Homo sapiens: one gene and its partners. The protein of the gene in region 1 interacts with the protein of each later gene in a pairwise test. Each region holds a gene or a part of one and is shown in the gene's direction. Other genes may lie near its edges.

Region 1 (3,500 bases):
AAAGTATAAAAAGATTATTTATGAAATGAAGCAACAGAGAACTTTTCAGCTATTTGTGATTTTAGTCCTTCATCCTATTGTCAGCCTACTAAGTTTTCTTCAGTTGAGCTAATCATTTTCCGATTGGTGCAAAGCAAAGTTACCTATTTTATGTCATTCTTAGTGGTCTTTGTCTATATATTCATGAGTTTCAAGGGGTCCTTAAAGCATTGTGTTTTATATTCCATTTTCAGCTTATACTGGAACCATTTAAGAATTCTTATCACCTTTGTATATTTCCAACATTGCGGAGCTGTGATTGAATATGCTTTTTGTCAGTGTTGGGAAATAAAGTGAAAAGATCCACAACAAATCCAGTACCATTTTTCTGGTGCTCAGATATATTTTTTTTTTTAAGACGGAGTCTTGTTCTGTCACCCAGGCTGGAGTGCAATGGCGCAATCTCAGCTCACTACAAGCTCCGCCTCCCGGGTTCACACCATTCTCCTGCCTCAGCCTCCCAAGTAGCGGGGATTACAGGTGTCTGCCACCATGCCCGGCTAATTTTTATGTATTTTTAGTAGAGATGGGGTTTCACCATCTTGGCCAGGATGGTCTTGAACTCCTGACCTTGTGATCCACCCACTTCAGCCTCCCAAAGTGCTGGGATTACAGGCATGAGCCACCATGCCCGGCTGTACTCAGATATTTATTGAATGAATTCTGTTTCCATGTATGTTTCATTAACTTCTTGAAGTTAATCTGATTTCAGGTTAAAGTCAAACCATATTTGAGTTACTTTTAAGCCATAATTATTACTTAGTGTACATTTGTGTGACATTAATTTATCATTTTTCTCTTTTCAGGAGCTCCTCCATTCCTGAGACCACCTGGAATGCCAGGACTCCGAGGGCCCTTACCCCGACTTTTACCTCCAGGACCACCACCAGGCCGACCCCCTGGCCCTCCCCCAGGTCCACCTCCAGGTCTGCCTCCTGGTCCCCCTCCTCGTGGACCCCCACCAAGGCTACCTCCCCCTGCACCTCCAGGTGATGCTTTCAATTTCTATAATAAAAACTTAGCCTGCTGTTTATTTAATTTGCTCTAAGACATATGGTCACATTTCAGTATTCTGAAATCTGAGGTCATCTTACAGTCAGTGGTGGTTTTTAAGTTGCCGTTGACCTGGCTTGAAGTACAGTTCTTCCAGTGGGTATTTGCACTTGGTTCACTTGAGGAACTTGTAGCCAGAGAACATGGGATTAAATTCTCTATTTGATAATTTTTTGGTTTTAGTTGTAGTTACGAAGCCGTTTCATGCATCTGCATGAGTACCAACTTAAAGTTTAAAATTAGAGTGTTTTTTTCCCTTACCTCTACCTAATGTCAAGGTTAGACATGCAGATTTTCTTGTGGGCTTGTTTTATGTGGTAGGTATATTTCTAGTTTACAACACTGAAATGTCCCAGTTTCATGTGAATATCTGCTTTTCAGTGCCCCAGCTGGGGCTTTTTTTCCTCTCTCTCTCTCAGTGGTACACAGAATAATTATGAGTTTGTAATCAATAGGATCTTAGATTTGATAAAATGTACTTAATATTTCATTTAAAAGTGGTATTTGAAGAACTGAAATCTGCAGTTCTTGGTATATGAATATTGTGTATGTCTGAACTGTCCATAGGACATGAGTTCTTTTCCAGTAATGATGACAGATTGTGATTAGTTGCATTCTCTTACTCCATGTGCATTGTTTTTTTCTTTGAGACGGAGTTTCATTCTTCTTGCCCAGGCTGGAGTGCAATGGCGCGATCTGAGCTCACTGCAACCTCCGCCTCCTGGGTTCAAGCAATTCTCCTGCCTCAGCCTCCCAAGTAGCTGGGATTACAGGCGTGCACCACCACGCCCAGCTAATTTTGTATTTTTAGTAGAGACAGGGTTTCATCATGTTGGTCATCAGGCTGGTCTCGAGCTCCTGACCTCAAATGATCCACCCGCCTCAGCCTCCCAAAGTGCTGGGATTACAAGTGTGAGCCACCATGCTCGGCCTCCGTATGCATTTGATGACCAGGGTTAAAATTTTATTTCCTGCCCATTGACCTTTTTGTGCAGGGGAAATGGTATGGAATATAATGCATGGGGATCAGTCTCCTGACCTTGTCCTTACTAATACCTGCACTATGCAGCTGGAATAGAACCTTGGGATGTGAGATTTGAGATAGTAATTTGAAACCAGTTGATGTCCCTTTATATTTTAAAGTAGGATGTTATTTAGAGAAGAAGAGAACATAATACTGTAAGTACAGGAATATAGGCTGAAGGTAAATACTGTTTTATAATAAAATATTCCTGAGTTTCAAATAGCAACCAATATGAATTCAGCTTATTTTCTGTAAGTTGTTATCCATTTATTTAAAAATTGGCAACCAATATTTAAATGTCCTTAATAGTAGTTAAATTTTATTAGTTCTTACAGTATTCATCTTGCCTATTTTATTCATTTAGGTATTCCTCCACCTCGTCCTGGCATGATGCGCCCACCTTTGGTGCCTCCCCTTGGACCTGCCCCCCCTGGGCTGTTCCCACCAGCTCCCTTGCCAAACCCTGGGGTTTTAAGTGCCCCACCCAACTTGATTCAGCGACCCAAGGCGGATGATACAAGTGCAGCCACCATTGAGAAGAAAGCCACAGCAACCATCAGTGCCAAGCCACAGATCACTAATCCCAAGGCAGAGATTACTCGATTTGTGCCCACTGCACTGAGAGTACGTCGGGAGAATAAAGGGGCTACTGCTGCTCCCCAAAGAAAGTCAGAGGATGATTCTGCTGTGCCTCTTGCCAAAGCAGCACCCAAATCTGGTCCTTCTGTTCCTGTCTCAGTACAAACTAAGGATGATGTCTATGAGGCTTTCATGAAAGAGATGGAAGGGCTACTGTGACAGCTTTTGATGCCAGAAAAGGCTTCTGTTCACAACAGTGGCCCATGGAGAAAGAGGCTCTTATTAAACTTAGATGAAAGAGCTGCTTCCATTGTCAGGGTATTTTCTAATTTCAGTTCAAGGAATATCCTAAAATTTAGCCTTGTTCAGAATTTACTGCACATAAAAAAGGGTATTTCATCCAGAATAGATCAGTTATTGAAGCAGTGCTGCTAACATCCATTCCCTTTCATACCACCATTTTCACCCTGTTTCTTCCCCTCCTCCAGTTCTTTGGAAATTTGTGATCGGGGGATCTTAGTTGCTTATTTGTTTTGACTCTTGTGTGCTGTGGGCACTGGAGTAGAGATTTCTGGAGAAAAAAAAACAGTTTATTTCATCTTGCCTTTTGTGTTTGAGTTATTTTTAATATTTTCCTGTAAATATTTTGTAATATTTTACTTGTAATGAAATGGATCACAATGTCATTTCCTAATACAAGGCAGGATATGTGGGAAGAATATGTACAATTATTTGATTAAAATTATTTCCCACTGACCTAAACTTTCAGTGATTTGTGGGAAAAATAAATAAATGTTCTACACCA
Region 2 (3,500 bases), on another chromosome or scaffold:
TCACATCTAGTAGAATTATAAGAAAATGAAAATGTCACAGATTCCAGGGTACTTAGTGGAAGTTAGCTTATGAAGAACTGACATATACAATGACAGAAGAAGGCTAGATTGGGCATTACAAATAAAGATGTTTGGGTTGGCGTTCAGTGCCTTGGCTTTCCCTAACACTTGTGTTTATCATCAGGCACAGCAGTGACCACCACCTCAGCGGCTGTAGTGTCCCAGAGTCCTCAGCTGTATAATCAAACCTCCAATCCACCTGGCTCTCCGGTAATCCTGTTGTCCTATATACAAAACTCGTGGCTGATGGGGAAATTTTGTTTTGCTATACAAGTATTACCCTTTCCTGTTGTATGAGCCAGGATTGAGTAATACACACTTCAACCTTATTTCTTTCTGTTGTTTTAAAATATTAATTTTATGATATATATGTGCATGTATATTTTAAATATAAAATTTCAACTGTGTATTTACACTTTATGCATGCTTGACCTTTAGAAAGTTGTCGCCGGGGCCGGGTGTGGTGGCTCGCGCCTGTAATCCCAGCACTTTGGGAGGCCGAGGCGGGTGGATCACGAGGTTAGGAGATCAAGACCATCCTGGCTAACACGGTGAAACCCCGTCTCTACTAAAAATACAAAAATTAGCCGGGCGTGGTGGCACATGCCTGTAATCCCAGCTACTCGGGAGGCTGAGGCAGGAGAATTGCTTGAACCCCGGAGACGGAGGTTGCAGTGAGCCAAGATTGCGCCACTGCAGTCCAGTTTGGGCAACAGAGCAAGACTCCTCTTGAAAAAGAAAGCAAAAAAGTTGTCAACATGTGTTTTGCTGAGGGATTGCCTTAGATTATTGCTACAGTGTGTCTGTCAGGGGAGCCCTTCCTCCTGGATGATTGCAGTGATTTAGCTCTCTTAAAAGGCTTTACAGTTGAAATTATATTGAAGCTGCTGTTCTTTCCAGACTGAGGAAGCACAGCCTAGCACTAGCACAAGTACACAGGCCCCAGCCGCTTCCCCTACTGGTGTAGTTCCTGGTACCAAATATGGTAAGCCAAACCTCATGGGGCTGTTGACAGTTGGAAGGTCTTAGTTGTTGTCTTTGTTTAATGAGAGTTCTTCTCCCTTTGCGGGTGTCAGAGGGACACTTGGGGATGTGAGACAGAGAAGAAACATTAGGCCTGCTGCATCTCACTGGCTTAGAATTTGAAATAAAGCCAATTTCTTACCTGGAATGACTGTATGCTGGATTTTGTTTTTGCAGCAGTACCTGACACGTCCACTTACCAGTATGATGAATCTTCAGGATATTACTATGATCCGACAACAGGGCTCTATTATGACCCCAACTCGCAAGTAAATGTGCTGCTTTCCTCCTCAATTTCACTAGAAGTAGTTTCGCTTAGTGCATTTATGAGGCATAAAATGAAATATTTCCTGCAAAAGAATATATGACTCAGATTAGTTTTAACTTCTTCAAAGCCACCAAAATGTAATTTTTATATGGAGATTGTAAGTTTTAATTGTAGGGTTAAAAAATGTTTTGAGGTATAATATACACACAAAAAAATACACAAAACAGAAATGTGCAATTCTTTGAATGTTTATACATGTCTATACATTTGTATATTACATGTGTATATACACCACCACTTATTCCCAGCCCACCTAATCCTCATGCCCATTGCTGGTCAGTAACCTATGTCTTCAATAACCACTATTTTGATTTCTGTTGCCATAGATTATTTTGTCAAGTTACAATTTATGGAAAGACCTAGCTAGAAATTTTAAATTGTACTTTTCTCCCTATTGTTTAACCTTTTAGAGTGTACAAATCAGTGGCTTTTAATATATTCACAGTGTTGTGTAACTGTCACCACTGTCTAATCTCAGAACATTTTCATCACTCGAAGAAGAAACCCTGTACCTGTTAAACAGTCACTCCCCATTCTGTACTCTCCTCCAGTAACTACTAATCTACTCTCTGTCTCTATGGATTTGCTTTTTTTATTTTTTTTGTGGCACGATCTTGGCTCACTGCAGCCTCCACCTCCTGGGTTCAAGCAATGCTCCTGCCTCAGCCTGCTGAGTAGCTGGTAGCTGGGATTACAGGCGCCCACCACACCCAGCTAATTTTTGTAGTCGAGACAGGGTTTCACCTTGTTTGCCAGGCTGGTCTCGAACTCCTGACCTTAAGTGATCCACCCGCCTCAGCCTCCAAAGTGCCAGGATTACAGGCATGAGCCACTGTGCCCAGCCCTCTGTTCTTGACATTTCATATAAGTGGAGTCAGACAATAGATTACCTTTTGTGTCCAGCATCCTTTACTTTGCCTCCCTGTGTATTCTTGAGGGTAGAATTTAGCAGATGTATGGAGTGATGTTTTATTTTTGGTGGCATATATAACTTTTAAAAGGGAAAAACAACTTTAACACCCCATAAATAACTCTATTTATGACCGGGAGCTGTATATATAGAACAGTAATAAGTATTTTTAACAGGAACTTGGCATTGATAGGTTGTGGTTTCTGAGAGATTGAAGTGTGAAGCTGTGTGTGACGTGCCTAAGCAGGCCAAGCCTCTGCATACCTCTTCCATCCACTTCTCTCATTTGTGAAGCCTGGCCATTTATTTCCCTGTCAGTTCTTTTTTTTTTTTTTTTTTTTTCCCGTCAGTTCTCTTTGGTGGCCTTAGAAGTTGTGTCTGTAGGCTGGGCGCAGTGGCTCACGCCTGTAATCCCAGCACTTTGGGAGGCCAAGATGGGAGGATCACTAGGTCAGGAGATTGAGACCATCCTGGCTAACACAGTGAAACCCCGTCTCTACTAAAAAAAAAAAAAAAATACAAAAAAATTAGCCAAGCGTGGTGTCGAATGCCTGTAGTCCCAGCTACTCGGGAGGCTGAGGCAGGAGAATGGCGTGAACCCGGGAGGTGGAGCTGGCAGTAAGCGAATGTCGCGCCACTGCACTCCAGCCTGGGTGACGGAGCGAGACTCTGTCTAAAAAAAAAAAAAAAAAAAAAAAAAAAAAAGTTGTGTCTGTTAGCCACGCCACCTTACCCAGAAGAGACAGACACTGTCTCCTGGGTCCCTGTTGAGCAGATAGAGTGAGCGACTGGAAAATAGAGGAGAGGATATGTGACACCTCTCCTCTGTTGCAATTCCTGCTGAGCTTGGGTCCCTTCACCAACACCTCCTTCCAGCTCTGTGCTAGTGTTTACACCCTGTGTGTGGTTGCCTGGTATCCAATGGATTCTATGTGGATGGGCCCAATGATGAGCTGTTGTCATGGCAGATGTCTGAACTCCATGACACGCCCACCTGTTCTGGCTGCCTGGTTTATGTAAATAGTCTGTGGAACAGAGTGAGACAAATTGCTCTTTGGGTGCCCTCTAGGTAGGCCCAGGGATTAAATTAATGGGAACTAGACTTTTTAAATTTTTATTATCATTTTTTTTGAGATGGAGTCTTACTCTGTTGCCCAGACTGGAGTGCAGTGGCATGAT
Region 3 (2,975 bases), on another chromosome or scaffold:
GTGTGGCTGCCAGGGCCTTAGAGGTTGGCATCAGGCTGCCCACCCCAGTCACTGCCAGAGCCTCCCACCTGAGTGTTCCTCCCGGCACTGGAAGCCAGTGGCCGTCCAGAGGAACGTGATTGAATTGCTGTATATCCATCTGGTGGAGCACTGCTGTGTGTCTGTTAAAAAAGAAACCATAGGTTTTTAGGGATATGTAATGATATTTAGAAAGGGTTTAAGAGACAGTAAAGCTTGGCAGAATAAACCGTGTATACAGAATGGATGTTTGCTTGCATAAATAAATTTATATAAATATGTCTGGGGGATAAAAATAAGTATATCACAATGCTAAGACAGGCATATGGGGAATTTAAGCTTTTCTTTATACTTGTCCATAGTTTCCAATTTTTAAATTTGTAATTTTTTATCAGAAAAATAAATGTGTAAATATAGTGGAATCTTTATTAAAACATTCACTTTTATTTGCTATTTCAGAAGTTACTGCTTTGCTTATTTTTTACAACATTTCTGTGGTAAATAATCGGTGACTTACAAGCCTAGTGCAGCCAGTGATGGGGGTTGGCAAACGGTGACATGCAGGGGCCATGCGGCGTCTAGTGTCTGTTTCTGTGTTGAATTTGTGTAGCAACAGAGCAAGTATTTCTCCTGAAACTCAGACTCACTCAGGCCACCTCAGCCCTTCTAGTTCCTTTCGTTTATTATAGAGTAACCTACAGCAGGAATACCGCGTTCATTTACTGTTAATAGAAGATCCACAAAAGATTTTGAAATCAAATACATTCTAAAACTAGGCAAGACACGCTGCAACTCCCCTTGTCCTCTGGGTTATGAGGGGTGAGCGTTGGTTTCCGTGTGCTCAGATCCCATGAATGAGACCTCACAGGGAAGCGCCCAGTGACTGGCAGGCTCCTTAATGCCTCCAGGTCAGGCTCAGGAAGTCTCTGGATGCCTGGGTAGAGTCTGGGTCTTCTCAGAGCGGGAGGCACCCAGGGCCTGTGGAGGCCTGAGGGCTGCTCTGGGGTTCCAGGGCCCCAGATAGTGGCTTAGCATCCTGGTGACACAGAAGGGAGAGCACTCACCGCGGTCCCACGTGTGTGTTTTGAAGCCTAAGATGTTTGCAATGACTCTCAACAGTCGCTTTGACCTTTTCCCCTAGATCTTTAGCAGTTAAGGAGTTTTTTTCAAAGCCCAAGTATAACCACATTTTGAAACCAGAAGACTGTCTCTCTGAACCGTGCACTATATTGCAGTTGGACATGAGAACCGTGCAAATTTCTGATCTAGAGGTGAGAAAAAGATGAATTGCTCCTTACATTCGATAATCAGTGACCACGAAACACTCAGACCAGAGCCTGGCTTATCAAAAACCTTCAGTGAGTGCTGGGGGTGTGAGTGAATAACTAATTATTTTATTATGCAAATAAGTGAATTTATAAAACGTTTGCTACTGATTTTTTCCAGTCTTTTTTCTTTTTTACGTTCTATTTTGATTCTTTCATATTGTACACCATTTTATGTCTCCAGCGTCTTCATTTTAGATTTATGTTTAATATTCTCAGCATCTTCAAAATCAAATAAATTATATTTCGTTTCATTATGGTATTTGCATTACAGTTTTTTTCAAGTATTTTAAGCCACTCTTCATGACAGAATCGTTAGAATTCCCTCCGTGAATCCCTGTCTGTGGCCGCGCGGTGGCGCTCGTGGGCTCTGGGCGGTTTCCCCGCGCCCCCGCCCTGCCTGGCGCCCCAGCTGGCGCCGCGTCTGGAGATGGGGCGGGCGCGGTGGCGCCGGCGCGCTTTGGTTTTTAGTTCGTTCTGCTGTGGAAAGGCCCAGCCTGGAGCTCTCCAACTCCTTAACTGGAAGAGCTGAGCGCCGAAAAGATTCCGCAGAATCTGGGGTAGAAAATTGGGCGCAAGAAGCTCAGATGCTTGAAACGTTTCTGACTGAAGCCTCTGAACTCACGATGCGGGTTTTGGGGGTGGTTTCCCCAGGCTGGGGGGCTTTTCTACGGTTCCTGACGCATTCAGCGTCTGCGCGGGGCGCGTGGAGGGGGCCGCCCCAACCCGGGCCCTGCGGTGCCACGCGGTGCCCACGCGTGCCTTGTCATCTGCTTGACCCAGACCCTGAGGGGCGAGCTGCGCTTCGACATCAGGAAGGCGGGGACCCTGCACGGCTTCACGGCCTGGTTTAGCGTCCACTTCCAGAGCCTGCAGGAGGGGCAGCCGCCGCAGGTGCTCAGCACCGGGCCCTTCCACCCGTGAGTGTGCGGGGCGCGGGCACGGGGTGCGGGGTGGGGGGCAGGGGAGTAGGCGGGGTGCGGGGATGGGGCGCGCAGGAGGGGGTGGGACGCGGCGTGGCGGTCGTGGGGGGGTGGGGCACGTGGGGGCGCGGGCAGTGGGGTGGGGGCGGCGCGCATGGGGGCACGGGTGGTGTAGACACCGCAGCCTGTGTGCCCCCTTCCGGGTCTCGCCACCACTCTGGGCCCAGCCTGGGCGTCCCTCCGACAACAGCCCCAACGGGAGGAGCTCCCTGTCTTCCACCCCGCGAGGAGCACCACAGCTCTTCATGGTCTGACCCAAAGCGCCTCCACGGGGCGTCGGGGTTCACCTGACGTTTTTGGAGGTGCCTGTTTTTTGGGACACATTTCCCCGCCAGCACCCTGGGCATGTGTGGCAGTGGAGCTGCCTTCAGGGCCCTGCAGGCCTTCCCTTTGGGTGGGGTTGGCTACCCCGCTCTGGCACCTGCCCCGCTGACTTCCCAGCGTGGTGGCCCCGCGAGGGGACCCCGGCTCCAGGGAGGTCGCAGAGGTGCGGGGTTGATGGCCTGGCCTGGCATGTGGTCCCCATCACAAGAGTCCTGTGGTGGCCCCTCCAGTGCCATCACCGGGTGGAGGTGGGCAGCTTGGAGGCCAGTTATACCCATCCCCGAGTCTGGGGGCGTGGAGGGGGCAGTGACCTGGGGCACAGGCT
Region 4 (3,500 bases), on another chromosome or scaffold:
AGGTGGGAAAGGTGGGACAATTGAGTATAGTGCCGGGGGTTTAGCATAGTGGGATGACTCAAGGGTATGATATTTACAAAATGCTTAGCACCTGGTTAGCGCTTAATGAATGGTAGCTGTAATTGTGTCAATTTTCATTACCCAGGAATATGAGGGGGGTCGGAATGAGGCAGGCGAAAGGCACGGACGTGGGAGGGCACGGCTACCCAACGGGGACACCTACGAAGGGAGCTACGAATTCGGTAAAAGACATGGCCAGGTCAGAACCGTTGACTTGACTGGATGGTTTTCTCTATTTAATACTCTGTTAGCAAATGCTACATTCAGCAATGATATGAATGATATAATCAATGTGTTTCAGGGGATCTACAAATTTAAAAATGGTGCTCGATATATCGGAGAATATGTTAGAAATAAAAAGCACGGTCAAGGCACTTTTATATATCCAGATGGATCCAGATATGAAGGTAAAATGTTATCACTAAGCAGATTTTCGTGTTACAGAAGTTTTTCTTTCTTTATGACTGAACTTGTCTGTGAATACTGACATGTATGAGAAAGCTTAAAGTTCTCCAGTTACTCATTCAACGAACACAGATCGTGTTACTATATTCACAGTGTTGATGCAGAAATAGGAAAGCCTTGTAATTAATTAACTCACTAATGAATCTGTAGTGGGAAATCTGTCCCTGTGGCCAGCATGTCCATGTCCTGGGAGCAGACAAAAGGGAGGCTCCTGAGTGGACGCAGGCCTCGCAGCTGGTGGACCCACGGCTTCAGCTGCTCTGCGGCATTCATCTTCCTGAACCTGTCTTTGCATTTTCCATTTCTGACCAACCCCGCCATCTGACGGATGTGTTATTTCTTCAGATCGAGTGTTTCCTTACATCAGGGCTTCCTGTCTGGGAGTCTTCCTGCCTTGTTAAACTGACTTTTCCTACCTGTGCCATAAGTCCTTACAGGCCAATGTTATGTTTGAGGAGGATTCTTTTTCCTTTATTTCCAAGAACCTCCCTGCCGCCCCTTGTGCCGTTGTCACCTGGTGTGACCACATTAGTGATATCCCAAACCTGGGCAGGGGGACCGGCAGGGAGCGTGTTGTGAGTCTTCAGAAAGTGTATATAAAATTCTGTGTTCTGGGCTTTTTGTTTTTTCCCTAGGAAGAAAGAAATTGTCTAGTTTTCTTCAGATTTCCAAAAAGATCTGTGACCCTAACCTTGGACTCTGGTGACAATAGGTGTGAGCTTGCATAGGTGACTTCACATCTCCTTGCCTCAGTTTCTCATCTGTAGCATGAAGATTCAATGGATAAACACAGGGAGACACCTGCAACCTTGCCTGATCCATAGTGAGCACTCAGTAACTGGGGCTAGGACTGTGATGTACCACTTGTGACAGCATCACTTCTTAGTGAGGAGGACATATTCTTACAAAGTGCGAGCTATAGTTGCTTGCTTTGCTCCTAGATAAAATAAGAACCAGTAGGTGGTTCTTATTTTAATAGATGTCAGTGATGATTCTGTCCAATTCTGAGACCAAGATGGAGGGTTTTAATACCATCCCTGTTAGATAGAAATTGTTTTGTTTTGTTTCATAAATCCCAGAAGGCTTGCTCTATAAGAAGCACCATCTGCTTTTTAAATCAACTTTAAACAATTTAATTTGGGGCTTAATTTAATTCTTTCCAAATCCTTATGCACCTAATCTCATTCTTGTCACTTTTGATTTTAGTGTAGATGTTGATACAATTTGAACAACACACACACACACGAAGATATTTAGGATAAGGGATTTAAGGAATTTTGAATATGAAGGTTAAAAATGGGTAACTGTTTCTCTGACACCAAATGCATGGATTTTCCATGCTATGTACTTCTCCAGTCTTCTGTGAACACCAACTGAGTTTCCAATGATGCAACTCCATTCTGACACCACCCAGAGTTAGCACAGACCCCACAGGTTAAGGGCTCAGTTTCCAAGACTGCCCCACTTCAGATGTCAACCTCAAGTTGTGGATCCGGAGGGTACCCACAGTTCTACCTGACTCGGCTACAAATTGGGGGTTCCTACAACACCCTACTCAGGTTTGATAATGTGCCATAGCGGCTCATAGGACTCAGGAAAGCACTTTACTCATGTTTACTGTAAAGGATATTATAAAGAATATGGATGAACAGCCAGATTCAGAGGTACAGAGGGCAAGGCCTGGAAGGTTCCCAAGCACAGGAGCTTCTGTCCTTGTGGAGGTGGAGTGCACCACCCTCCTGGCACATGATATGTTTATCACCCCAGAAGCTCAACAAATCTTGCTCAAGAGTTTTTACAGAGCTTAATCTCTGGCCCCTTCCTTCTTCTTTACCAAAAGTTGGTGGGTGGGGCTGGAGGTTCTATCCTTCTTATCACTTGGTCTTTCTGGTGTTCAGTCCCATCTTGAGGCCATCCTGGGCCTCATTTGCATAAGTTCAGGTGTGGTCAAAAGAGTCTCATTTTGAATAACAAAAACATTTCTATCAGTCAGGAAATGTCAAGGGTTTTAGGAGCTCTGTGCTGGGAACCATGAATAAAGACCAATATTTCTTATTATGCCACACTAACATATAAAGCTCTTCTGGTAACAGTTGGGATTTTTGATTCTCCAGATGGCTTTGTATCTTAAAGGGTGCAAGATTTAGCCACTACCCAGAGATTTCTTCTCTGACAAAAGCTTAAATAAGTGTCTTACTTCATGAAGGCAGCAATGGAAACTGAGGTCAGAAGTTATAATATTAATTATAACATAGTAAGCCAATACTCTTCCAATCACAAAATCTCAGTTAATGTATGGCTGAGTTATTCATAACAGTGTATCTTGGCTGGCTGCCATCACAATGGGCCAGAATGGTTTTGTGCAGGGCAGTGTGTTCAACGTCAGGACCCTGTGGCATAAAGTCCAGTACCCTACCTGTCTCCCAGATGGTCACACAAGTCCAATTAGGGAGTCCAGGAGCCAGCAGAGGCTATAGTGCTGCAGGAGAGGAGTGGGGAGACGGTCCTGGGTGGCGGGTGACTTGGATACAGGCAGGAAGGCCGAGGTTTTTAGGGGTAGTGGGGGATGAGATGGAGGGGAGGGTGGGTGCCAGATGTGGGGGAGGCCTAGACCCCATGTACTGATGCTGAGGGTTGGGGGTGTAGGGCCAACTGAGGACTCTGAGGTTAAGGGGGAGAAAGAGCATCCCTATTCCCTGCTGGCCTTGTTGCCTGTCAAACAGAACTCATCAAAACAAAGAAGTTTAAGAATGACATTGTGGAGAAAGAAGAATGACATGATAACTTGAACCTGGGTTTTTTGGAAGCCCCCGAATGGCAGGAGCTGGAAAAAATGAGCACTTGACTGTTGGGATGCTTGTGGAGAAGAGAGCATGGTGTTAGACAGACTCCAATTTTCATTTCAGTCTTGCTACCCACCAGCTGTGGGACCTTGGGGAATGCATGCAGTCTCTCTGCTTTTCAGGTTCTGCATC

The links. Proteins that work in one complex are often made in the same cells at the same time.
Region 2: the proteins of WBP11 (region 1) and RBM5 interact in a two-hybrid assay, tested with the Homo sapiens proteins (one large-scale study listed by BioGRID and IntAct).
Region 3: the proteins of WBP11 (region 1) and PRMT2 interact in a two-hybrid assay, tested with the Homo sapiens proteins (one large-scale study listed by BioGRID and IntAct).
Region 4: the proteins of WBP11 (region 1) and RSPH1 interact in a two-hybrid assay, tested with the Homo sapiens proteins (one large-scale study listed by BioGRID and IntAct).

What each region holds. Positions count from the first base shown.
Region 1 is NC_000012.12:14,786,479-14,789,978, reverse strand, and holds part of WBP11 (WW domain-binding protein 11), read left to right. Parts: intron 1-845; coding exon 846-1,028; intron 1,029-2,480; coding exon 2,481-2,914; 3' UTR 2,915-3,500. UniProt on the Homo sapiens protein: Activates pre-mRNA splicing. May inhibit PP1 phosphatase activity.
Region 2 is NC_000003.12:50,109,419-50,112,918, forward strand, and holds part of RBM5 (RNA-binding protein 5), read left to right. Parts: intron 1-184; coding exon 185-270; intron 271-960; coding exon 961-1,045; intron 1,046-1,260; coding exon 1,261-1,352; intron 1,353-3,500. UniProt on the Homo sapiens protein: Component of the spliceosome A complex. Binds to ssRNA containing the consensus sequence 5'-AGGUAA-3'. Regulates alternative splicing of a number of mRNAs.
Region 3 is NC_000021.9:46,659,674-46,662,648, forward strand, and holds part of PRMT2 (protein arginine N-methyltransferase 2), read left to right. Parts: exon of another isoform or gene 1-1,159; coding exon 1,160-1,289; exon of another isoform or gene 1,290-1,597; intron 1,598-2,126; coding exon 2,127-2,263; intron 2,264-2,975. UniProt on the Homo sapiens protein: Arginine methyltransferase that methylates the guanidino nitrogens of arginyl residues in proteins such as STAT3, FBL, histone H4. Acts as a coactivator (with NCOA2) of the androgen receptor (AR)-mediated transactivation.
Region 4 is NC_000021.9:42,489,725-42,493,224, reverse strand, and holds part of RSPH1 (radial spoke head 1 homolog), read left to right. Parts: intron 1-145; coding exon 146-259; intron 260-361; coding exon 362-467; intron 468-3,500.